Linked DNA regions of Homo sapiens. The protein of the gene in region 2 purifies or fractionates together with the protein of the main gene of each other region. This does not show direct contact. Each region holds a gene or a part of one and is shown on either strand. Other genes may lie near its edges. The genes, in order: TNKS, AXIN2, RLIM and RNF111.

Region 1 (6,073 bases), on a different chromosome or scaffold from region 2:
CCCTACTTTGGAGACAACTGCTTTGAAATATACATTCTTGAGAATGAAAAAATCTATAATTTCAAGTCACCTCTAAAAAACAACCAGTTTGCTTCTTTCCTCTCTTAAGTGCTTGACAAAGTTTCAGACTACACCATTCAGAAAATGCCAGTAAAAATTATTAAATATGTCATATTTCTTTAGTGTAGAGGTTGAGAAAATTATTACAAATCTGAAGGCATACAATTTTTTTTTTTGAGACAGATTCTCACTCTGTCTCCCAGGCTGGAGTGTAGTGGCGCAATCTCAGCTCACTGCAAGCTTCGCCTCCCAGGTTCATGCCATTCTCCTGCCTCAGCCTCCTGGGTAGCTGGGACTACAGGCACCCGCCACCACGCCCGGCTAATTTTTTGTATTTTTAGTAGAGACGGGGTTTCACCGTCTTAGCCAGGATGGTCTCCATCTCCTGACCTCGTGATCCACCTGCCTCGGCCTCCCAAAGTGCTGGGATTACAGGCGTGAGCCACTGTGCCTGGCCACAAATGTTTTTTAGAATAAGTAGAGCTATTCTGATGCTATCATTTAACATAATTTATTTTCTGATAAACTGTTATTCAAGTGGACACTATCAAAATATATCCGTATAGTATTAACTGAAAGTAATGTAAAGATGAAATCTATTTCAAATGACTATAGCTATATTTTGTTGCTTTACAGAAGGGTGACATTAAAGGATCAAGAAACACGGGTAATTATTTTTATTAGAAACAAGATCTAAATCAGCTTTATAGGAGAATCCATGAATTTAAGTACGAACTAATAGTCCTTTATAAAATTAGTTTCTTCAGAAAAATCGGAGAGAGAGAAGCAGTGTTAAGAGCAGCTGGCTGCTCAGTGCTGAGTCTGGCACTCTGCTCAGGTGTGTGCCTCACCTTGGCGCCATGCTTATGCAGAACTTCCATGACATCATTATGGGCTCTTTCGGCTGCAACATGCAGGGGAGTCATGAAACTACAGAAAAGAGGAAAGAAAGAAAAGGTAATTGTCTCTCTTTTATTGCATTTCCTCTTTAGGAACTGAACAACTCCTTCTGCAATTATACTTACTCTTTATTTTTTTCATTAACATTTGCTCCTTTTCTAAGTAACAATTCTGTCACTTGTTTACGTTTGGGATGCAGAGAGGCCACAGCACAGTGCTATAAAGTAAACAAAACCAAGTTAATAAAATACACTTCCATATGTACAGTAGCTCTTGGAATTGAACAGTATCTGCTGACCATTTAAAACATTGTTATCTCAGAGTATCAGAACATATGTATATGTTTTATATCACAGAGATGATCCATATTCTTTCTACGTATAGTGGAAATACAAAACGTAAGCGTTTAAACCAAGGTGAAATTATGCTCTTAAACATTAAGAGAGATCTTATTTCTTTTGGCTTAGCCAATCAATAAATATTCACTATATATTCCATGGAGAGCATCATAATACGTATGCCTCTGCAACGCTACAGAAATCTATAACTAAGTTACTCAATCTTTCATTAGGCCATCAGCCACACAAGTCAGTATTTCTAAGCTCTTCTACAGAGGTACTCCCAGCACTACAGGAGACGTTTATATGCCCAAGGATAAGCAAGAAAATGATAGAACTGAAGCAGTTTAGAGAAAAATATTCTCAGAAATTTTAGGTTTTAACATAATATTTATACAACTTTTTTATTCTGCTTCATTTTAATATTCGTATTAAAATTTAAAAATAAAAAACTACTTTCAACTAAATAAAATGAAAACTCCAAAAAAGTGGGTCAGGTTTATTCTGTGGCTATGAATATCTCCTAGCATAACACCGTGTAGCTTGAATCTATCTCAACCCTAGTTTGAGAGACATGTATTTAAGTGTACATATAGTTAGCCTATTTCAGTTTGGTCAATCCTTTAATGTTGTTTTATGCAGATACTGACAAACGTTTGATCTTTTGTGTCAAATATACGTAAGAATATTAATTAGGTATATTTAAGGTCTGTGATGCAGGCATCACATATGCTTAAATTCTGAATTTAGGAGCGATCACTAACCACTCTCTAGCTGAGCCTTAATGTGTCAATGACAAAGAAAATAAATAAATCTTTCCGAAAGTGCATTTGAAGAAAAAAACGTGGATAGTTTTAAGAATAATTTGTATAGTATCAAACAAAAAATTCATGATCTTGCCATTTTTCTACCATGAATATAATCAGTTCTTTGAATACAATTGCTCAAAAAGATAATGCAAATATCTAAAAATATACTTTAATCTTCTACAGAAGGAAATCTAGTATTTATCTAGCAAACATAAGAAAAAAAAATTCTATTGAAAAATCATATCTTGTAGTTTATGAAAGCACTGGCCACAAAAGTGGATTTGTTATAATGAGGTGGGGAAGACAAAGGTAAAATAATTTCCAAATTGAGGTTGAGCAAATGTCAATTCTCTCACCCATGAAAAGAATCACCCCCCAAACTAAGTTTAAAAATCAATGCAACCAAAATTAACATGCAAATTCCTGGCATTTCAGATACTAAAGTTACTTTAAGGTTTCTGAAATGAAAATCATATTTTGTGCTTACGTTATTATTATAGACACAGGGAATAGATTAACAATAAAATCTTACCAGTGCTGTTTCATGAGACTGCGGTTGTTTGAAATTAATGATTTCCAGAGCGAGTGTTTTTTTAACTTTAGCTAAGTCTGCTTCTCTGGCTGCTTGTAGTAAAGAATGACCTTTAAATTCATCTGTCAATGAAACAATGGTTGACATAAAAAAAGATGTAAAAATGTATAAAAATCTTCAGCATGATTATAAATAAGTAGGAATATTATTATTTTATGAATTTCTCTATTTTAACAACAGCAGCAATGTGATAATATGATGATAAAAATGCAAAAGATGAGGATGTAGATTAATGTGAAGTATGTATGCTCTGAAATAAGACTGTTTCACACTCTCAGAGTCATAAAGATACACCTATAAAGATACTTATTGCAGCAAAATTTTGAAACAGGAAACCTAAATGTCCACCAAAAGGAAACCAGTTAAATAATTTGTGTGCACATATGCTGTAACACTTTCTAGCTCTTAAACAAGAGATAGGTCTACATACACTGACATGAAAGTATACAGTGGTACATGAAAATTCAAAAAAGAAAGGACAGGCTGATGCATTATTTTTGGTATTGTCACTACTCTTGCTACTACTATTGCCACCATAAGTACACCATAAGTAATGGTATAGAAAACATTTACAGAAATATTTACCAAAATATCAATGGTGATTAGGTCTTGACACAGAAAAGGAAAGGACTAAAATATGGGAGAAATGCAGAGCTTGAAAATTTTTCAAAGAACAATTAATAGCTTATTATTTTCATAACCAGGTGAGAGATTTTTTGAAAAGCTGTATCTAAATTAATTGCATGAATGAGAATCCAATATTTTTATATCTTTAACTATGCTGAAACAAAAAGTTTATTTAAAAAACATTTGCATGTATATATTGGTAATATATTCAGAAGATGACCTCAACCTAATTATTTTTAAAATCTCACTTAAATATGGGAAAGTGATTATACTTGGGTCATAACACACATGACAAATAAAAATATGATTGTGCAGCCTTGCAGGGCTCGGGAAATGGGGAGGGCTCAATAATGCTAGATACCTGTCACTGTCAATGGCACAAGAACGTAAGCCCATAAGAGGTTTCAATAATGCTAGATACCTATCACTGTCAATAGCACAAGAATGTAAGCCCCAGAAGCTCAGAGCTTTTTAATGGTTTGTACACTGCTATATTTCTAGTGCCTGCCACATTGCAAGTATCCAAGAAATGGATGCTGATTGACTCATCCTCATTAGCCTTCAAAAAACCAAAAAAGGAGCTTCAACATACGAATTAAAACTAGGCTCGAATAAATACAATATATACAAAAAGTGTCTGTATATAACATTCCCATGGAATTCATGAAGAAAAGTATACAATTAGAAATGAGGATTATGAATTAGTCTGCTTGTAAGAATGGAAGGTTATTATTTAAGGTAGATAAAACTCAACAGAAATTAAATATTCCAATTTATGCGATAATGATTTCGGGATATAAATACGTACAAGTCAATCTCTCCCTAAGCTCCGGAGTTGGAGCCATATCCACAGCACTTTTGCCATGGCAGTTGACTAATGTAGGATCAGCGCCATGGCTAAGTAACAAAGAGCAGACTTCTACACGGTTCTTGGAAGCAGCCTCGTGCAGTGGAGTAAACTGCCAGAGATCCATGGCATTAACACAAGCTCCATGCTGAATTGAGAAAAAAAACATTTTAGGTCAGTAATCATTTTGCTGGATCAAATAAAACTCAAAAGACATTTATTTCTTTGTAAATTTCAGTTATAACTTGTTCAAATAAGTGTTTTAATTTCTTCAATATCACCTTTCAAAAACAGCTGAAATTAAATTCAATGTTTTAAAAATTTTAAGGCAATGGTAATATGTTTAAAAACGTATTTTATTCTCTTAAAATCTAAAAAAACAAGACTGGGCAACATGGCAAAACCTCGTCTCTACAAAAAACATAAAAATTAGCTGTGCGTGGTGGCACACCCCTGTAATCCCAGCTACTGGGGAGGCTGAGGGGGAGGATCACTTGAACTTGGGAGGTTGAGGCTGCAGTGAGCTGTGAATGTGCCACTGCACTCCAGCCTGGGTGACAGGGCAAGACCCTGTCTCAAAACAAACAAACAAAAAACCCCAAAGAACTAAACAAACTTTCATGAGGCCGAAAGTATGGAAAGTCATGACAAGGTAAAGAAAAAAAAAAAAAGTAAATGATGCTCAATATTCTGAATTTCTCTTACCTTTAGTAGCAGTTCTGTGACTTCATAATGTCCATATGAACATGCATTATGAAGAGGCACAAGTCCACTAAATGAAAAGAGGCAAATTAAAATACTTAAATTTCAAACAACTTATTTATCCATGTCGTACTAAGAAATAAAATCCAATAAATCCCAATACAATTATTTTAAAATATTTAAAAGTATTTAATAAAATAATAAAAGAATTCAAAGCATAGCTTATGTTCACACCTTTTGTATTTATCTTGTTTTTTGTATATAATCCTTGAAGATAATGAAAAAAATACCAAATAGAAGAACATTTTGGCGAAAGGAAGATCATATGCTAATTGACAAATGCATGCATTATATATTAAGTATTTACAAGAAATAAATGTTAATTGGTAGTGAACTGAAATATTCCACCATTTTAATTCACTTTAATGGTAATTTCTAGCAAAATAATCAAATATCCAAACTATTATAACTTGCATATCAAAGTATTCTAAATAAACCAAAAAAACCCTTTTTTTGTGGTGTACATCTCTTGATGACTCACCTATTGTACACCCATCTGTTTTCAGACATGCACAAGGAAATAGAGATGTACAAGAGCATCAGGCATTTATGCCCCTATACTACTGGGACACCATTCACATATGGCACAAAACCTGGTGCAGGCAAGAGAACAGCACCAGAAAAAGCAGATTGGAAATGGAAGAATTCTTCTGGTAAGTGTCTCAAGCATTGAGTTCATTTTTATGTTTCTTGACTTGGGGAGGGACAAAGTGAAAGAAACTCTCCTCTAGGGCATCTCTTCTTTATGCTGTCAGTCACAAGACTGTAACATAATCTACCTTACCTGGGTAGTAGGGTTAATTATCTTTCAGATCTTAAAGTGGGGCAATGAGAAATGTTAGTCCACCACATAGGACAGCAAACCCAATGATCGTATATCTCTGGAGACTTTACAGGAAACTGATACAAAGTTTTCAAAAATGACCTACTGGTAAAATAAATGACATAACTGCTTTTTTAGTTACCACCCATATCCCCTCACATCAACCTTCTAGGTTTTCTCAGTTTAGATGTCCAAGATTTCACCAGAAAAAAAATTTGGTATTGTATACTTATGATTTTGGTTTATCAATAAAGGATGATCCTTTACTATCTGTTGAATCTGATAGCTATGCTACTGGATTTTCATAATTTTCAA
Region 2 (6,073 bases):
CACTCAAAGGAGCCTCGTTTTTAACGACTTGTTTGTGTCCTTACTGATTTGGTGTCAGGTTTAATATAAATAGTTGGGGCGGAAGAGCAGGAATTATCCTCAGAGGGCAGGACTCTGGTCTGAGTGGTTGAGGGGGATGCCTGGGCTTTTGACAATGGCTATAAATAACCTAGAGCAAAAGCAACTTGTTGGTAGGAGCACGTGTAAAATCCCCGGCACACAGACACACACACGCACAGTGTCGAGGTGTGTGCGAAGGGGGGTTGTGGGATTGGGCACTGGGCCCAGCATTTATTTTGGGGAGGAGAATAAGGTGCTGGGTGCACAGAGCCCTCCCTGTGTCCTCGCCTTTCTGCACGGGCCCTTGTGTGTCCTGCCCAAGGTGGGGCTCATCTGCCTCCCATTGGGCCCTCTGCTCTGGCCTCCCTTAAAAGAAGTCGGGCCCAGCAGATGGCCCTCTGCTGGCTCCGAGTGCTGCTTCCAGTTCTCTGAAAGAACTCGCTGATGAGGCCCGTTTTTGTGCGGAGCCATTGGAATCAAGCTTGGCTTCAATTATCAAAGAAAATGATGCCATAGGAAAGATATGCTGGAAGCAGTAGTCCACAATTAGAGGATGGAAGCTCTGGTGAGGGCAGTTTGCTAAGATCCACTTGTAAAAGTTTGCCTGTTTTCAAAAGGTCCCGTTGCCCAGTGCTGTTGGAGTCCTGGCCCCTTGCCGAGTGTCCCTTGATCTTGCCTTAGAAAATGCTTGTTGAAGAGGGTATTGCCTTTTGGGCAGTGACCTTGTGAGTAAATTTTCAGAGGGCTCTTGGAAAGCCCTGAACGCACAGACTTAGAAGCATATACTTTTGAAGTTGCATTGTTTTGAGAAGGGAACGTGAGGAGGAGGAGGAGGAAGAGGAAGAGGAGGAGAAGGAGGAGGACCCCTATGGTCAGTTCTGTCAGGTCAGTTCTGTGCTCCCTGCCTGGAGGCTCCCCTCTGGTTTATGGGGAGGGGCAGGGCCACAGCATCTCATTAAGAGGAGATAAGAACAGGATAGGGGAAAACAGAAAGCAGCCGGCACCTCCTTTCCCTGAAGGTTCCGGGGGTCTCTGCCACCTGCAGGCTGAAAACCCTTTGCTTACTGAGGTTGCAAACCAGGTCTGTGGATGTGAGGCTGATGCAGAAGCTGCAGCATAGGCCTCTACTCTGTGTAGGAATTTAAAATCCTTGCAGCAACTGGAAGCACAACAGTCCTGAGGAAATAAAGCATCTGGGTACAATTACTGTAGCGTGGTTTGAGTTTCCTCCCCCCCCCCCCGCCTTTTTTTTTAAGTAATCACAAGAAAACAGCCCCACTCCGTTTTCTTAAAATTATGTGGCACTTTTGACAAAGGTCTGGGTTCTGAAATACCGAGTCTCTGCCTCTCCCCACAACCCTGCCTCCTTTCTCTGCCCTGTCTTGTTATGATTGTGGGAAAATCCAAGTACTTTATTGCAGTCAACTGAGTTAAGAGCAGTATATTCCATTTTTAATTACTGGTCACACAGTAGTCCTCTATGTTGGAAGTGAAGGGAGACAAGTTTATTTTGGGATCCATGTGTTAAACAACGAGTGCAAAGCCGTGTGAGCACACATAGGGTTTGAGTTAGGTGTCTTTTTTGCTGGGAGGAAGGAATTTTCTATTGAGTCATTTTCTCCCCACAGAGGTTGAAGTATAGCTCTTACAGTGGAGACATGGTTGATGTGTTAATACCACCAAGATAGCAGGACTGAAGGCATGGAAGAAAGAGTGTTTGAATGCTATTTAAGGCTGTTTTGGCTTTTTTGGTGTTGCACCATGCCTGTTAAACTAAAAAACTTTTCCAGTGACCCATCTAATGGTCTTAGGTCCTTTAAGGAGAGTCAGCAAGGTTTTCAGTCACTGCCACGTGCCACTCACTACTTTCAGCGTCGGAGATTCGTGTGAGGACAGGGCTGTCCCTCATGGAGCTTACAGTCTGGTTTCACAGGACAGGTGTTCAACATGGAAACACCAGTGTCCAGTCATTATAGATCATGATAAAGATGATGAAGGAAATTAGGGCAGTTGAGAAAATGGGAGCTCTCTGGTTTTTTGTTTTTGTTTTTGTTTTTTTTGAGATGGAGTTTCATTCTTGTTGCCTAGGCTGGAGTGCAATGGTGTGATCTCTGCTCACCACAACCTTTGCCTCCCGGGTTCAAGCGATTCTCCTGCCTCAGCCTCCCGAGTAGCTGGGATTACAAGCACGCGCCACCACGCCCGGCTAGTTTTGTATTTTTAGTAGAGACGGGGTTTCTCCATGTTGGTCAGGCTGGTCTTGAACTCCCGACCTCAGGTGATCCACCCATCTCGGCCTCCCAAAGTGCTGGGATTATAGGCGTGGGTCACCGTGCCTGGCTGGGGCTCTCTGTTTTTGTTGGCACTCGGTTTTTTCTTGGAATTTTCCTGTGATTTCCCCCAAATTACTGTGCCTTTGTTGGTTCATTTGGAGGACCTCAGAACTTGGTGCAGAGGCCATGATCCAACTGCCTGCTCTTCAGGTGGGTGCCCACCTCTGGAGGGGTTGTGACTCAGCCCAGCAGTGAGCACTGCAGCCAAGCCGGCAGCAGTGCCCAGCCTCTGACTTCTGGTCCCTACTGAGAGTTTACAGAATGTGGCCTCATCACTGGATTCCTAACAACAGGAAAAGGCCCCAAGGAAGTCATCGTGTGCATCCTGCTTCAAGGCAGTATCCACGCCTTACTTACGCACCCAGATGGCTGGGCACTTTGGCCTGTTTTAAAGACTTGGGTGATTTCACAGCCTGTCCCCACCTACTTTATGGATTTCCTCTGACCATTTAGAAGTATTTTTTTCTCTCTAACTTTTGAAGTCTATTTCCCCTTGTTCTTCCTTTAGTGGGGATGCTGAACAGAGAGTCCCCCTTCTCAACTACGAGGCCTTTTTCACTGAATCAACCTTCTCTTCTCCAGAAGAATGAACTGTTCTTTTTACTCTCACCACTCCTCTCTGCCCTTGGTGTTGGGGAATTCCGGATTGAGGACACATGGACCAGGAGGAAGGCCTGGAAGATCTTACCGTTCTCATTTAATTTTCACCAAAAAAATCCCAGGAGGTCGTGAGACTTCTTGCCCTCTACAGATATGAGAACAGGGTCAGAGTGTCCAAGTGACGGTCACAAGTCACTTGGTCAAAAGTGTTGAGGGGTTCATGTGCAGTGCTCCTGGTCTGCACCTTCTGGTCAGTTCTATGCCTACAGCATATTTCTAAGATCTGACTTGATGCAGTCGGACAGGATCCAGGGCACAGCTGTGGTCCGGCTCCTCTGGCCAAGTCTGACAAGGCCTTTGGCCCACATGGTGCTAAGTTACCTCCTTGGGTGGTTGTGATGATTACAGGGGTCCCTTCTGGCTTAAAAAGTTTATGGCCCTGTAACTTTTTGTGTGTGTTTGGTGACTCCAACAAGCGCAAACTCCTTAAAGGCAGAGACTGCCTCTCCTACCTTCTTTTCCATCCCACCATCCCCTGTTGAGACAGACCCTCACACCAAATTGTGGCGGTGGCTTCCCCCAGGGCTCCCTGCCTGTACCTACCCCTCCTTTCCATCCAGTCTGGTGACAGACCTTGGATCCTATGTGCTGATGGGAATGCTTTCTCCCTGCCGGTCCCCTGGCACCCCTGCTGTCCCCTGGCCTCCTGGCCCCTCCCCATCCAGTTAAGACAGGACTATGACCTTGCACTGAAGACCTACGTCCCTTGCCAGGCCTTCTTAGCCTGGCTAATTAGACCCCTCTCTCTCCCTAGTCTAGGGAGAGCTTTTCGCTACCTTTCCCTTTTTTCCCTTTACCTAGTCCTGGGTTGTCATCTCCTCAAATTCCTGCTCAACCATGAGTCCCATCTGCCATCTGTCCCAGGGAGTCCCGTTAGTCCCATTAGTCCCATCAGTCCCATCTGTCCCAGGGAGCCGTCCCCAACTGTCCCTCCTAGAAATGTTCTATCCGTCATCTGGGTTACCTGTACTAAGGCACTCCTTTCCTGCTTTTTATTCTGTGAGAACTTGGAAACATGTTGAGTCTAGTCTTTGTATTGGGAGGCAGTTTGATTGAGAGCCACGTGACTCAATCCATGCCCACCAGTTCCAGCTGTGTGATCTGGGCAGGCTGCTGGAATTCTGGACTCCAAGGGCCTCATCTGTAGAATGGGCACAGTCCAGTGCTCCTTCTCCCCTCCTCGTGAGCCTGTGATAACACTGAGCGTACCTCCCTCATGACACCCCCACAGTATGGTGACATGCCCCCACCAGGCCATGGGTGCTGGAAGACCAGAGTTCAGCATGTAGCAAGTGAGTAGGAGCTTGGTGAACATGTGCAGACAGCTGACTGTCACCTTTCTGGGTCCTTTTCATTTGCCAACCCCACGGCCATCTTTACAGACCAGCTGCTGTGGACTAATAGAATATATTCTCTTTTCTGAGCCTTTCTTTTCTCCCTCACTTGATTTCTTTGCTGCTGGCATAGACTTGGTGGGACCAGTGGAGGATGCCAGGGTCTTTGTAAATAGGCCTCCTGCGACTTCAGGCCTTAACGTGCAGCCTGCCGACCTATCTGCCCCTCCCCGCTACTTAAGCCCCTCACTGGTGACACAAGAGGAATGCGGCCCAGCAGGAGATGTGCACACTGGTTGTTCTGGAAGGAGATCAGGAGGGTGAAATTAGGAGCCAGAGGCCATTGAAACAAAAGGGCTGGAGATACCGGAGGAGGGGCCTGGGCCTTCCTTTGAAACAGCTGTGTTGCTCATTTCAATCCTGCTGCACTAGCCAGTCCTGGGGAGAGGAAGCTGGGGGTTGGGGGAAGGGGCATGGCAACGGCTCATGGCAGAGCTCACAGGTGGGATTGGAGTCCTGAACGTTGTCTTGAACTTTTCTGTCCCGTCTGTCCAGCTCACTGTGGGCCCAGGGTCAAAGTGAGAAGGCCACACTGGCCTCTAGCTGTTTGCATCTCTGGACTGGGCTAACAGACCCCAGACAAGGAGTTTAGGTACTTAAGATGTCTTGGGGCCCTGAAATTGTATTCTTTGGTGCAGGATTGGATAGGGAGGTGGAGCAGAGAAAGATATTTCATCTTCACTGACTCGTTCCCCTCTTCTATTCCATGGCCTCCTCTCCTAAAGCAGAGTCCAGTTCCTTCCTCTAAGTGCATTTAGAGCTTCACAGGATCCCCTGGGCTGCCTCTGGAATACTCTCTGCCCTGGCAGACCCACCACTGGGGGCAGAGGAACCAGCTTGCTTTCCCCAGGGTGAACCGGTGGCTCAGGAGGCCTCCCTTTTGTGGCCCCTGCTTTCTGCCCAGGTGAGCAACTGGACCTGGGCAGCAGGTTGGCGTTGAGCAGATTGTGGGATAGTGTGCTGGGTTGTCCTGGGGTCACCTGATTACCTGGGTTTCTGGTGAGGGTCAGTGACTGAACCACTTTTGTACTTTGCCCATAGGTCCTTCAAGAGGAGCGATCCTGTTAATCCTTATCACATAGGTTCTGGCTATGTCTTTGCACCAGCCACCAGCGCCAACGACAGTGAGATATCCAGTGATGCGCTGACGGATGATTCCATGTCCATGACGGACAGCAGTGTGTGAGTATCCTGGCCACCCTTCCGTGGGCTTGCTTGGGAGTGGATGCCACCTGAGCACTTAGCCAGAATCGTCTGTCATCCTCAGCTGGCTTTGCAGACCGCACCTGTGCATGTATGGACATCAGTTTGGTGGGAGGGGAGTATGACAAGGGTATGGTGCTGATTAAGGAGGATGACATGGTCATCTGGGTAGGGTAAAGCTTAGAGCTTTGAAAGTTGGGAGGATATTGTAACAGAAGAAAAACTAAAGGACAGTAGAAGATTAGGATGAATGAATATTTATAGATTCCTTGAGTTTAAAAAACCTTCTTCTGGTTGTCATCATCTGGTTGTCCCTGTGGGAACAGTTGCTTGGCTGGTCCAGAAACCCAGGTATCCTGTCTGCAGAACCAACAGCTGGGAGACAAGGTGGCATTAGAAGGGTCTGTGTTTAGGTATTCATTG
Region 3 (6,073 bases), on a different chromosome or scaffold from region 2:
TTCACAGTTCTGGAGACTAGAAAATCCAAGATCAGGGTGCCAGCAGGTTTGATATATGTTGAGGGCCCAATTCCTCATAGACAGCTGTCTTCTCACTTTAACCTCACATGGCAAAAGGACAAAGGAACTCTCTGGGGACTATTTTATAAAAGCGTTAATCTCATTCATGAGGGCCCCACCCTTATGACCAAAGGCCCTACCTCCTAATATATTCACCTTGGGATTTAGGATTTCAACATGTGAATTTGAGGGGGACAAACATTTGGTCAGTAGCACATATGTTCATGGAATTTAGTTGTGTTCGTGGGGAACATAAGGGGAATCTGGGGTTGTAAGGTAAAGAATTAGAGGATGAACATTTTTGTTTGTAGTCTCCCTGTATTTTAGATTGTTGACTACCATTGTTTTTTATTAGTGTGCAGTTCATTGATGAGTATGTGTGGAATGTCTGCCAATATTCTGGTTTCCTTAAACTCGTACAAATAGTGAATGACAAGAATTTTTGGCTAAGTTTATGTATTACCTAGAACAGGAGTTGGCATCCTTTTTCTTTAAAAGGCCAGATAGTATAATATTTTAGGCTTTGCAGATCAAAAAGCAAAATTGAGCATATTGTCACACAAAAGAGAGAAACCAAATTCTCACAGTTTTTCCTGATAAAACTCAAAATGTAATAACAATAATTGAGTACAGTGTTTCGTGAGATAGGTTTACTAATGAGAAGAATGATACTCTTTTGAGGGTAACATTTTGCTTAATTGGGATTCATAGCTAGTATTCCTTATTAGTCATTTGCAAATGTCCATTTATTGCTGACTTAAATATTTAATCTTTGAAAATATCTTTTCATACATATAGGTATTGCTATCTTAAGCAATCCACAAGTGTATGATTTTAGTGAAGCATATATAGAATTTTGTTAGATTTTTATCTTTTTTTTTTTTTTTTTGAAACAGAGTCTCACTGTGTCGCACAGGCAGGAGTGCAGTGGCGCGATCTCTGCTCACTGCAAGCTCCGCCTCCCAGGTTCATGCCATTCTCCTGCCTCAGCCTCCCGAGTAGCTGGGACTACAGGCGCCCGCCACCACACCCAGCTAATTTTTTTGTGTTTTGAGTACAGGTGGGGTTTCACTGTGTTAGCCAGGATGGTCTCTATCTCCTGACCTCGTGATCCGCCCACCTCAGCCTCCCAAAGTGCTGGGATTACAGGCGTGAGCCACCGCGCCTGGCAATTTTTTATCTTTTAATTTAATTTAATTTTTTATGAAGATGGGGTCTCACTATGTTGCCCAAGCTCGTCTTGAACTTCTGGGCTCAAGTGATCCTCCCACCTCGGCCTCCCAAAGTGCTGAGATTACAGGTGTGAGCCACCACACCCCAGCCAGATGACTTTAATATTTACCTTTTGGCATATTACCACTGCAGAGATGTCACTTCTAGTTGAGGGTTAGATGGAAGCTCCTCAGTTGCACAGTTAAATGGATTTTGAAATAAGGAAATTTATTTTGTGCTTACATTGGGGTCTGCAAAACAGTTCTGGAACTGTAGTTTGAGCTCAGAAAATGTATGTGCTACAAATTTGTGTGGGAATGGAGCTCTCATTACTTTGTCAGGACATGAAGTATATAAAACAGCTTGACATTACATGTGATACCAATGTTGTTGCTGAAATGGCTTTACCACAGTATAAGTTTCATATATAAGTATTTTTTGCTTTGTTGTTTTAGGATGGATTCATTAAGAAACATTATCAAGTCTGCAGGAAACACTAATTTTCCAAGCTATTTATTGTTTGATAATAGTAATTGAGAGCGGTTCTCACAGAAAATAAATCCATCTTTGCCTTGAGCACAACAAATCACAATAAAACTTTACCAATATTAGCCCATCAAATGTTGTGTTGTAGAGCAAGACAAAATTTCTGACAAAAATTCATGGAACTTGAGCTTAAACCAGAGTTCATAAGAGAGAAGTTTATCATTAGTGCTACTGGTTCAGTAATATGATAGATTGAAATTTTCTTCAGATCACTTGATGATGAGTAATAAAATATATAACCATAAACGTTAAATACCTTACATTTTCATAAACTTTGTAAATTTGTCCAACTAGGTCTTTTTCCATTCCATATATATTTTTACCATTCCAGTAGTAACATATCTTATTATGAGATTCTGCTTCAGGTTTTGCTGAATTAGTTTTCTCAACTTTGAAAATATTCTCACCTATGATTATTTCATGTAGACTACACATAGGGGCTACTTCTGCAGTTCAAACTCCTTGAATAATCAACACTTGGCTCTTTGAATAAACAATAACTTAAGTAGTATCAGTTACATTTGTCAACAAATCAAGAGCCAAAGAGAAAACCACTCCATCATTTACCTTATTTTTCAGTTGATTAGTGACATTGCTTTTCAATATTCCCAGCTTTTTGGACCACTATACTTACCAAAAGTCCAATATTATGTTTATTTTCTCTGGACACATTTCTTCAGCTTCTGCACTCAAACATAATTTCACTAACTCACCATCAATAAACAGCTTTCCTCGTTTAGCCAATAAATGAGCCCCTGGGAAATTTACTTTGATTGAAGCCTCATTTTTATTTTTGTGAAGAAATATTTTGTGATGAGATTTCACTTTAAATTTTCTAACTTTTTGAACTGTAGTTTTCCTGTGAATTGGGAATATTGTCACTAGTGTTTAATAGTGTCAGTATATATTGTATTTAGTATATAGTATTTTTTGCATAATCATGCATTCTTTGCCATCTAATCTGATTTTTGAAAAACCCATCCTCTGCTGCACCTTTAAGCGTGACATTCAGAGTCCACTTTTCTCTTTGTTTGAGATGATGAGTGTATACTCAGTTTTTTTTAATGTCCAGTGTGAAGGCACTTGAAATGCTGTCATTATAGCTACATCACTGCAACTTAAGAGTGCACAGAGCAGCAGTCCAAAGCAATGGGAGTGCCACATACAGTCTGTCACAACTGCTCAACTCTGCCATTATAGCACAGAAGCAGCCATAGATAACATGTAAATGAATGTGTATGGCTGCGTTCCAATAAAACTTTATGAACACTAAAATGTGAATTTCATTGCATTTTCATATGTCACAAGATAGTCTCTAAAAACCATTCTTAGGTTGCAAGGAGAATAAAAATATGCAGCACGAGGCTGGGTGCGGTGGCTCATGCCTGTAATCCCAGCACTTTGGGAGGCTGAGGAGGGCAGGTCACTTGAGCTCAGGAGGTTGAGACCAGATTGGGCCAACATGGTGAAACCCTGTCTCTACTAAAAATACAAAAATTAGCTGGGCGTGGTGGCAGGTGCCTGTCGTCCCAGCTACTTCGGGAGGCTGAGGCAGAGAATCACTTGAACCCAGGAGGTGGAGGTTGCAGTGAGCTGAGATCGCACCACTACACTCTAGCCTGGTTGAGAGAGCGAGACTCCATCTCAAAAAACAAAAAATACCACAGTATGGCTGGATTTGGCCCAAGGGCTTTAGTTCGCCAACCCTGTCTGGTTCAAGGGCTGTAGTTTGCCAACCCTTGACCTACTCTTAATATAACAGTGCTTTTCAGGAGTTTTTGTTAGGAAATTTCATTTGAGGTCTGAAAATCCATCTCTAGACCTACATTCTGGATTTTCACATAATTAAAACTTGTATAGAATACATAGTGACCTTTATTTTCAAGATTAGTCTCTTTTCTCTTTTCAGGTATTTTCCACTTGTTCATCAATATGGAAAACTCAGATTCCAATGACAAAGGAAGTGGTGATCAGTCTGCAGCACAGCGCAGAAGTCAGATGGACCGATTGGATCGAGAAGAAGCTTTCTATCAATTTGTAAATAACCTGAGTGAAGAAGATTATAGGCTTATGAGAGATAACAATTTGCTAGGCACCCCAGGTATGCTTACATATATTTAAGGATTTATAAGTGTAAGTTGCTGGTTTAAAAAAAAATGCTTGAACCTGTTTTAAAAATCCATTTCTTTAGCCCTTATGAAATATTATTTAACATAGGGGATATGGAATGACATTTATTGCTGTATTTATTACCTGATTATATTTACTGATGTTTGGAATTACACTATATCAGAGAGATTTTTAACTTATGAATTATGAATTTTTAGCGAACTGAATTGAAAAGAATGGAGCTAAATCTTTTTTTTCTTAGTTAGCTTTATCTAACTTACTAGATAAGAATCCGAGTGTGGAATAGCTAATGGGAACTTAGTTTTTAGGAAAGACTTATTCTGTTATCTCTGATTTTCTGAATATGTCCCAGTTGTAATCCTCCAGAGCTAGCCTTGGGTAACATAGCAATTAGAAGTTTGTGCTTAATTATCTTTTACCCCACTAAGTCCCATTTGATCCTAGTTAAAAGTCAGTATCTGTCTTCCTCTTCATTTCTGTTTAATTCTACTTACCTTTGAGTAATTGCTTAGATTTTAAAAGGTAAGGTTTTAGCATGACTTTTAAGAGAGGGAGTGTGTTTTTAGCCAACAATACCAGGCTTGAATCAGAATGCTTTAGGTGGAGTTCTGGCCCTGCTGTTTGGTGTGGCTCCTGGCAAGCCAGTCTGTCGCTCAGTCTGTTTCTTAATTTTAAAATGCAGATAACAATATCCTCCTCTCAAAGCTGCAATTCTTAAAAATTACTTACTTATTTATTTTTGAGACAGGGTCTCATGTTGCCCAGGCTGGACTCAAGGGATTCTTCCGCCTGAGTCTCCCAACGAGCTGGCACTACAGATGTGGTACCACTGTGCGCCCAGCTTAGAATTGCCTTTGCCTTTTTTTTTTTTTTTTTTTTTTTAAGCAGAGTCTTGCACTTTCGCCCAGGCTGGAGTGCAGTGGTGCAGTCTCTGCTCACTGCAACCTCTGCCTCCTGGGCTCAAGCGATTCTCCTGCCTCAGTCTCCTAAGCAGCTGGGATTACAGGCACCTGCCACCATGTCTGGCTAATTTTTGTATTTTTAGTAGAGATGGGGTTTCATCATGTTGGCCAGGCTGGTCTCGAACTCCTGACCTCCGGTGATCCACCCGCCTCGGCCTCCCAAAGTGCTGGGAGTACAGGCGTGAGCCAAAGTTAGATGTTATATGCAAAAGAACTTTGTAAATTGCTTTTAATATGTTTCCAAAGAAGTGAATTTTTCCCAGGACCTACCTACTCCTTGGTTTTTCTTTTTGGTTTGAAAAAGTTTTCTCTTTTAAAAATATGATTTTTTTTCTAATCATCTTGTGTCAGATTACTGTGAGTCACTGATAAAGTATTTGATTGTCATACCCCTAATGTCATCTTTGCCCTGTGGTGTTAAATTTCAGGTGAAAGTACTGAGGAAGAGTTGCTGAGACGACTACAGCAAATTAAAGAAGGCCCACCACCGCAAAACTCAGATGAAAATAGAGGTATGTTTTGGTTTTGGTGGGGAGGTGGATAGACGATGGGATGATAGGAACTTTGTAATAGTAAATGTCAGCCAAAGATTATCCAGATTTGGCACAAATTAATTTGGTGCTAAGTAACTGCTCATAAAAAGAAAACTGACATTTTCTTGATACTTAGAATGTCAGCATTTTTTTTCTACCTCACCTTTGAGATGTTTATGTTAATTGGAACACAGTGAGAAATGGCCCATTTAAATGTGATTTTGTTTGTTTGTTTGTTTTTCACCTCCATTGAAATTTATTCCTACTTAATTCCTTCTTTATAAACATGTGACTTCTTCACCAGCAAAAAGAAATGTCTAAACCCAGTGGTTCCTAATGAGATATAATTTTGCCCCATGTGGGACATTAGCAACGTCTGGAGACATTTGTGTAGAGGGCAGGAATGCTGCCAAACATCCTGACATGCCATAATGCACAACACAGCCCCCATGACACAGAATTAACTGGCTTAAAATGTCAGTAGTACCACTGTTGAGAAATCCTGCTCTAACCTCAGGTCTGGTGTTTCCCTCCCAGTGTCAAGTAGGGATTTTGATTGTGCAACCTGAGAGGCTACGATAATAATTTGGTTCTTGAACATGCCATTATATGTGCTATGCAAGGTTCAGA
Region 4 (6,073 bases), on a different chromosome or scaffold from region 2:
AGGAAGAAAACAATTACTTAAGTGATTATACAAAGAAAATGCCTAAAATTAATATAGGGTTAACATATTAACATTTTCTAAACAACAAAGGTGCAAGAAGGGAATAGTCCTACTAGTTTAGAGGAAATTTTATGACAAAACCAGTTTATAAAAGATGCTATAGCCGAGTGCAGTGGCTTACGCCTGTAATCCCAGCATTTTGGGAGGCTGAGGTAGGTGGATCGCTTCAGCCCAGGAGGTGGAGGTTGCAGTGAGCTGAGACTGCTGCCCTGAGCCTGGGCAACAGAAGGAGACCATCTCCCAGAAAAGGAAAAAAAAAAAAAAAAAAAAAAAAGATGCTGTAAAACAGACTGCATAGGACTAATCTGGATCCCTGTTTAAGTTTTGAAGAACACATTATAACTTTCTAGGACCTCCAAAGCCTCTCAAATTCTCATTTCTGCAAGATTTACAGAAGACAATTTTGACTACGAAATTTCCCTGGCCAAACCTTGTGTGGCCCTACAATAGGCAGTATATTTCCCACTCCCATGTTGGTAACATAGATACTTTAATCTTTTATTGTTTCACTCGCCAGATGAAGCCAGTTCTACGTGCCAGAAATTGGTAACAGTATATGCCAAAAGTAATCTTTATTTGGTTTCCAGTTTACTTTTACTCTTTTTTTTCAGAGACAGGGTCTCACTCTATTGCCCAGGCTGGAGTGCAGTGTGGTGTGCTCAAAGCTCACTGCAGTCTCAAACTCCTGGGCTTGAGCCATCCTCCTGCCTTAGTCTCCTGAGTAGCTGGCACTGCAGGTGCACACCATCACATGCAAATAATTGTACTATTTTTCTTTTTTGTAGAAACAGAGTCTTGTTATGTTGCCCAGGTTGGCCTCAAACTCCTGGCCTCAAGAGAGCCTCTGGCCTTGGCCTCAAAAAGTGCTGGAATTACACGTGTGAGCCATCATGCCCGGTGTAATTTACTTTTCAAATAAAATCCCATGTACAGTTTTGACAATGGATTTTAGATAATTAATATCTAGTTACCTCACATCTTCACCTTCCTCTAAAATAGACAAACAGATAGTACATTTTTCCTCTGTGTCTTCCTCAGTCCCTTCTTCCCCATCTTGTTTGCAGTGCAGTTTCCTCTGTGAGAACCAATCAGTTGTTACCTTATTAGTAGAGATGACATTATTGAACAACTGAGTAAAGTCTGTGTTTATTTGAAAAACAAAACAAAACAAAACCACATATTCACCCGCACTTTTTTCCCAGGTAAGACTGTCATAAATAAATGGATGAATTAAGTGACTATCATCAATTAAGTATATTTTTAAGACCCTCTAATAATTGGGATCAAAAGCAAAATCAAATTTAACAGAAATTCATTCACTTAAAAGCTATTACTTTTAATCCACAATGAGAATGATAAACAATATAAACTATTTTTATCCTACCATGAGCATAAATAAGTTTTTTTTATTAGTGAATGTTTCAAGTAACATCCATTTAAATTAACATTAGTTACAGTATTTAACTTGGACAGTTGAAAACTTGAATGTACTGGTAATACCTCAATACTCTTTGAAAATAGATGAAAAATACAGAGAATAGTAATTTTCACACTTTATGATTATTCTTTACATAGTATAAAGGAGTCTCCAACCCCTGGGCTGCAAACCAGTACCTGGCTGCACAGCAGGAGGTGAGTGGCAGGTGAGCGAGCATCACTGCTGGAGCTCTTCCTCCTGTCAGATCAGCAGCAGCGATAGATTCTCATAGAAGCGTGAACCCTATTGTAAACTGTGCATGTGAGGGATCTAGGTTGCATGCTCCTTAAGAGAATCTAACTAATGCCTGATAATCTGAGGTGGAATAGTTTCATTCTGAAACTATCCCCTCTGCCACCTATCCATGAAAAATTGTCTTCCATGAAAACTGGTCCCTGGTGTCAAAAAGGTTGGGGACCGTTGGTATTGAGCATGGTTTAAGACACGTATTTAACATGTCTACCCCATAACTGTATAATGCTATACAAGCAACTGAGGGTAGAGTAGAAGAAACATACATCAATAAAATGTCCGTCAAAATAAATTGCTAGTTAAAAAAATTACAGTACTGCCATATGATGGAATTCTGCATAAGCTATTAAAAATAATAAGGGTGATCTGTGGGAGCTAATTGGCATGAAAGGCAATCTGCAAACTATGTGGTAATCATCTCCTTTTGTGTTTTTTTTAAAGTAGACAAAAATATATATACATATGCACATTATTAGAAAATGCTAAAAAATATCTAGAAGAATATCTAAATCCTTAACTATGATTTCACTTCTGGGAAGAAGGACTAGGGTCTGCAGAGTAAAAAACTGCAAAGTATATATTTTTTATACTTTCCAAAATTTTTAAACAATATGTATGCATTACTTCAATAAAAATGTCATTGCTAGAGTCTACAAATTCAAAAAAGGTATATATTACATTTATGCCTTTCAGTAACACTCCAGAAGTTTCATAGAATAAATTCTTACCTTTTTGTATTTATGTGGATATGTACATCTTTCAATTGTCCCCTGGGATGCTCCACGATTGACATTGCCTAATCTTTCTTCCAAATGAATCAGTTCCTGAAAGTGAAGAATATAATGACTGGTAAAAGCCAAGATGATTATTCCTTGAACAGAACTGTCAACATTGTATAAGAAATAAACCTCCATACTTAGAAACTTGCAATATAAATACAGTGTTCAAAAAAACTTACACATGACAAGTGGTTACTTATATATAAGTATATATATAAAACAGTTTATATGTTGCCCAGGCTGGTCTCAAACTCCTGGCCTCAAGTGATCCTCCCACCTCGGCCTCCTAAACTGCTGAGATTACAGGTGTGAGCCACCATGCCTGACTTAATGTTTCTCATAGACAGTAAGGCAAATGGTTGTTTATCATGTTTTCCTCAGCCAACTGAAATGGTACAGCAAAAGTTATCTTTATAAATTACAACAATATTATCACATGGTACTATGTAAGTCAGTATGTATGTATGTATGGAGAAGATGAAATAATTCTAGTAAATTAAGGAACCAAATCAAACAATAGTTCTAAGTCACAATGACTCCAACTTCCAAACTGACATAAAAAAAACACAACGGGGGCCGGGTGCGGTGGCTTGCGCCTGTAATCCCAGTACTTTGGGAGGCCAAGGTGGGTGGATCACTTGAGGTCAGGAGTTCAAGAGCAGCCTGGCCAACATGGCAAAACACTATCTCTACTAAAAATACAAAAATTAGCCGGGCGTGGTGGCGGGCACCTGTAATCCCAGCTACTCAGGAAGCCGAGGCAGGAGAATTGCTTGAACCCAGGAGGCGCAGGTTGCAGTGAGCTGAGATTGTGCAACTGCACTCCAGTCTGGGTGACAGAGCAAGACTCCATCTAAAAAAACAACAACAACAAACAAACAAACAAACAAACAAAAAAACAAACCACAACAAAACTTTAAATCCCATTCGAATGATTTGTTCTTCCTGAAAATTCAAACAAGACATTTAGCTACAAAGGGAATTACTTAAGTTTCTTTTTCTCTACCGATTTCTCTAAAAATTTAGCTGAGTCAAAAACATTCCGTTCCCCACCACATTTAATGGTATAGTTATATATCTGACATTTATATTGATTTAATACATTTTTATATTCTTCTATATTAGATATTTTCATTTACTCATCTTTAAATATTTCGGTAACTTTTGACCCTAAGATTAATAATACTTACAAATATTTCTGTAACTCCCAGAAGCAACATCAGAAAATCACATGTGATTCCCAGCCACTGTAGCAGTCCTACACAATTGTGTATAGTAGTATATATATACTCAATCTGCATTAAAGATACTGTGACAAACATATTCATTTATTTTATTACATACCTCAAAATTGCCCCTGAAAGGACCTCTGAATGATGTTCCATCCAATCCTGATGAAATGTAACGGATGTGAGGATAGCCTGCCATATCAGGAACCTATTTCAACAGAAGAGATAGGCTAAATCAATTTTAAGAATAGACTTGTGATTTACTGTTAACATTGAATAATTCAAGACCCTCAATGTTTTCAATTCAACTGCTCATAAAATTTGACTTCAATAAGAATACATAACTCCAACTAAGCATTCTGTAACAGGTTTAGGTTTCTGTTAAAATATAACCTAACTCTCCAAAATGCCCAAACTTAAGCCTGAGGCTCTTAGTAGCTCAAACTTGAAAAGAGTAAAATTGTCTTAAGATCCTGTCCATTTCAGAGAGCTTTATTAAAACAACAACAAAAAATGCACACAATTTTCCAACAAAATTCGACTTCAAGATAAGTTTTTTACTTCACTTCTGTTAAGCTTCCTAACAGCCAAAGTACCCTATGCCTTTTTTGCTTGATTCTATTAGGGAAACTTTTAACACTGTTTTCTAATTTTTTGTTAGTTACAGTCAATCTTCATTATTTATGGATTACATATGTGTGAACTGACCCACAGGCTAAAATTTACTTGTAACCCCATAATCAACACTTGTGCTTTCAGAGTCATTCGTGGATATGACCGGTGGCAAAAAATTGCAGTTGCCCAACATGCAACTCTGTTCCCAGCTGAGGTAGAACAGGGCTCTGCCGTATTTGAGCTCCTACTATAAACCAGTGTCTTGTTTGCAGACTGTTTAGTGCCACGTTTTTCACAGTTTTGTGCTTTTTGTTGGTGATTGTGTTGTTTAAAATGGCACCCAAGCATAGAGCTGAAGTGCTGTCTAGTGTTCCTAAGCAAAGAAGGCTGTCATACACCTTATGGAGAGAATAAGTTTCATTCACGCATGAGTTACAGTGTTGTTGGCTATGAGTTCAATGTTAATGATTCTACAATATTTTTTAAAGTTGTCTTTAAGCAGAAACACACATAAAAAAGGTTATACACTGATTAGTTGTGAACAGAGGTTTGCAAGGGTCCCATATTTGCTAATTCAGTGTTTGCAGCAACTGTATAGATCATAACTGCCATGCATAGTGAGAGTATTAGGAAAGGGCATTTCTGAGATACAGCACCATTCTTCCATCTTTATAAATAAATCTCTGACATTACTTTTTAATTAGCCTACACTGAATCACAACATACTTTAAGCAGAATTTATAGCTTTAACGGACACTTCATATGTGGAAAAGAATTTAAATAAGCAATAACTTTTAACCTTCAATAGCCTATTACTTAAATTGTTTACAACTTTTCTTATAACCAAGATCATTACTACTCAGCAGATAACCCAACCTCCTAAACATCTTCAAAGAAATCGGAAAGGAACTCCTGCATCCCAAATTATCTAAATCTTCACTTACCCTGAAAAGCCTCTCCTCCCTAGTCTCTTTCCTCCAGCCTTTATGGATGAGCTTTTCTCCTATTCGAACTCAATCCTTATCACCCACTCCTCCCTTCACCTGTTCACCCTGGGTCATGCTTACTTCACTACTTCCCACCAAGCCTCTCTCTCTTCAATATCTTCAAACAATTCCTCTCTAATGGTTTTCTGTCTTAAACCTGAAAATACCTTAAGTTTTTCCAAACCTAAATTCTCTACTAATCCTGGAATTACTGCCAACCAAATAGGGGTTTCCTTCACTTTCCCTTCACAGCCAAGCTTATAAAGCAAGAAGGCTATATTCACTGTCTCCATGTTTTCACTTCCTTACCGTACGTAATCTAAGAGGTGCCCCATCTACATCACTCACCATTACTGAACCATTCTGACACAAAAGACCAATAACCACTCTACTGCCAAATGCTTTCAATACTTTTCAAACTTTATTTTTTTGTGATGACACCATACTGACCATATTACAGTTCACCCTTGAACAACATAAAATGGGTTTGAACTGCATGGGTCTGCTTACATGTAGATTTTCTGCCACCTCTGCCACCCCAGAGACAGCAAGATGAATCCCTCCTTTTCCTACTCTTCAGCTTACTCAATGTGAAGACAATAAGGAAAGAGACCTTTATAATGATACACTTTCACTTAACGAATAGTAAATGTATTTTCCCTTCCTTATAATTTT

Evidence for each region.
Region 1: the proteins of AXIN2 (region 2) and TNKS purify together in Homo sapiens (co-immunoprecipitation; one study listed by IntAct). This does not show direct contact.
Region 3: the proteins of AXIN2 (region 2) and RLIM purify together in Homo sapiens (affinity purification with western blotting, with the first as the bait; one study listed by BioGRID). This does not show direct contact.
Region 4: the proteins of AXIN2 (region 2) and RNF111 purify together in Homo sapiens (affinity purification with western blotting, with the first as the bait; one study listed by BioGRID). This does not show direct contact.

What each region holds. Positions count from the first base shown.
Region 1 is NC_000008.11:9,705,059-9,711,131, reverse strand, and holds part of TNKS (poly [ADP-ribose] polymerase tankyrase-1), read right to left. Parts: intron 4,946-6,073; coding exon 4,879-4,945; intron 4,322-4,878; coding exon 4,135-4,321; intron 2,762-4,134; coding exon 2,640-2,761; intron 1,178-2,639; coding exon 1,086-1,177; intron 991-1,085; coding exon 912-990; intron 1-911.
Region 2 is NC_000017.11:65,549,076-65,555,148, reverse strand, and holds part of AXIN2 (axin-2), read left to right. Parts: intron 1-5,488; coding exon 5,489-5,629; intron 5,630-6,073. UniProt on the Homo sapiens protein: Inhibitor of the Wnt signaling pathway. Down-regulates beta-catenin. Probably facilitate the phosphorylation of beta-catenin and APC by GSK3B.
Region 3 is NC_000023.11:74,593,655-74,599,727, reverse strand, and holds part of RLIM (E3 ubiquitin-protein ligase RLIM), read left to right. Parts: intron 1-3,727; 5' UTR 3,728-3,750; coding exon 3,751-3,919; intron 3,920-5,338; coding exon 5,339-5,422; intron 5,423-6,073. UniProt on the Homo sapiens protein: E3 ubiquitin-protein ligase.
Region 4 is NC_000015.10:59,087,599-59,093,671, reverse strand, and holds part of RNF111 (E3 ubiquitin-protein ligase Arkadia), read right to left. Parts: intron 4,006-6,073; coding exon 3,913-4,005; intron 2,614-3,912; coding exon 2,518-2,613; intron 1,160-2,517; coding exon of another isoform or gene 1,136-1,159; coding exon 1,032-1,135; intron 1-1,031. UniProt on the Homo sapiens protein: E3 ubiquitin-protein ligase. Required for mesoderm patterning during embryonic development. Acts as an enhancer of the transcriptional responses of the SMAD2/SMAD3 effectors, which are activated downstream of BMP.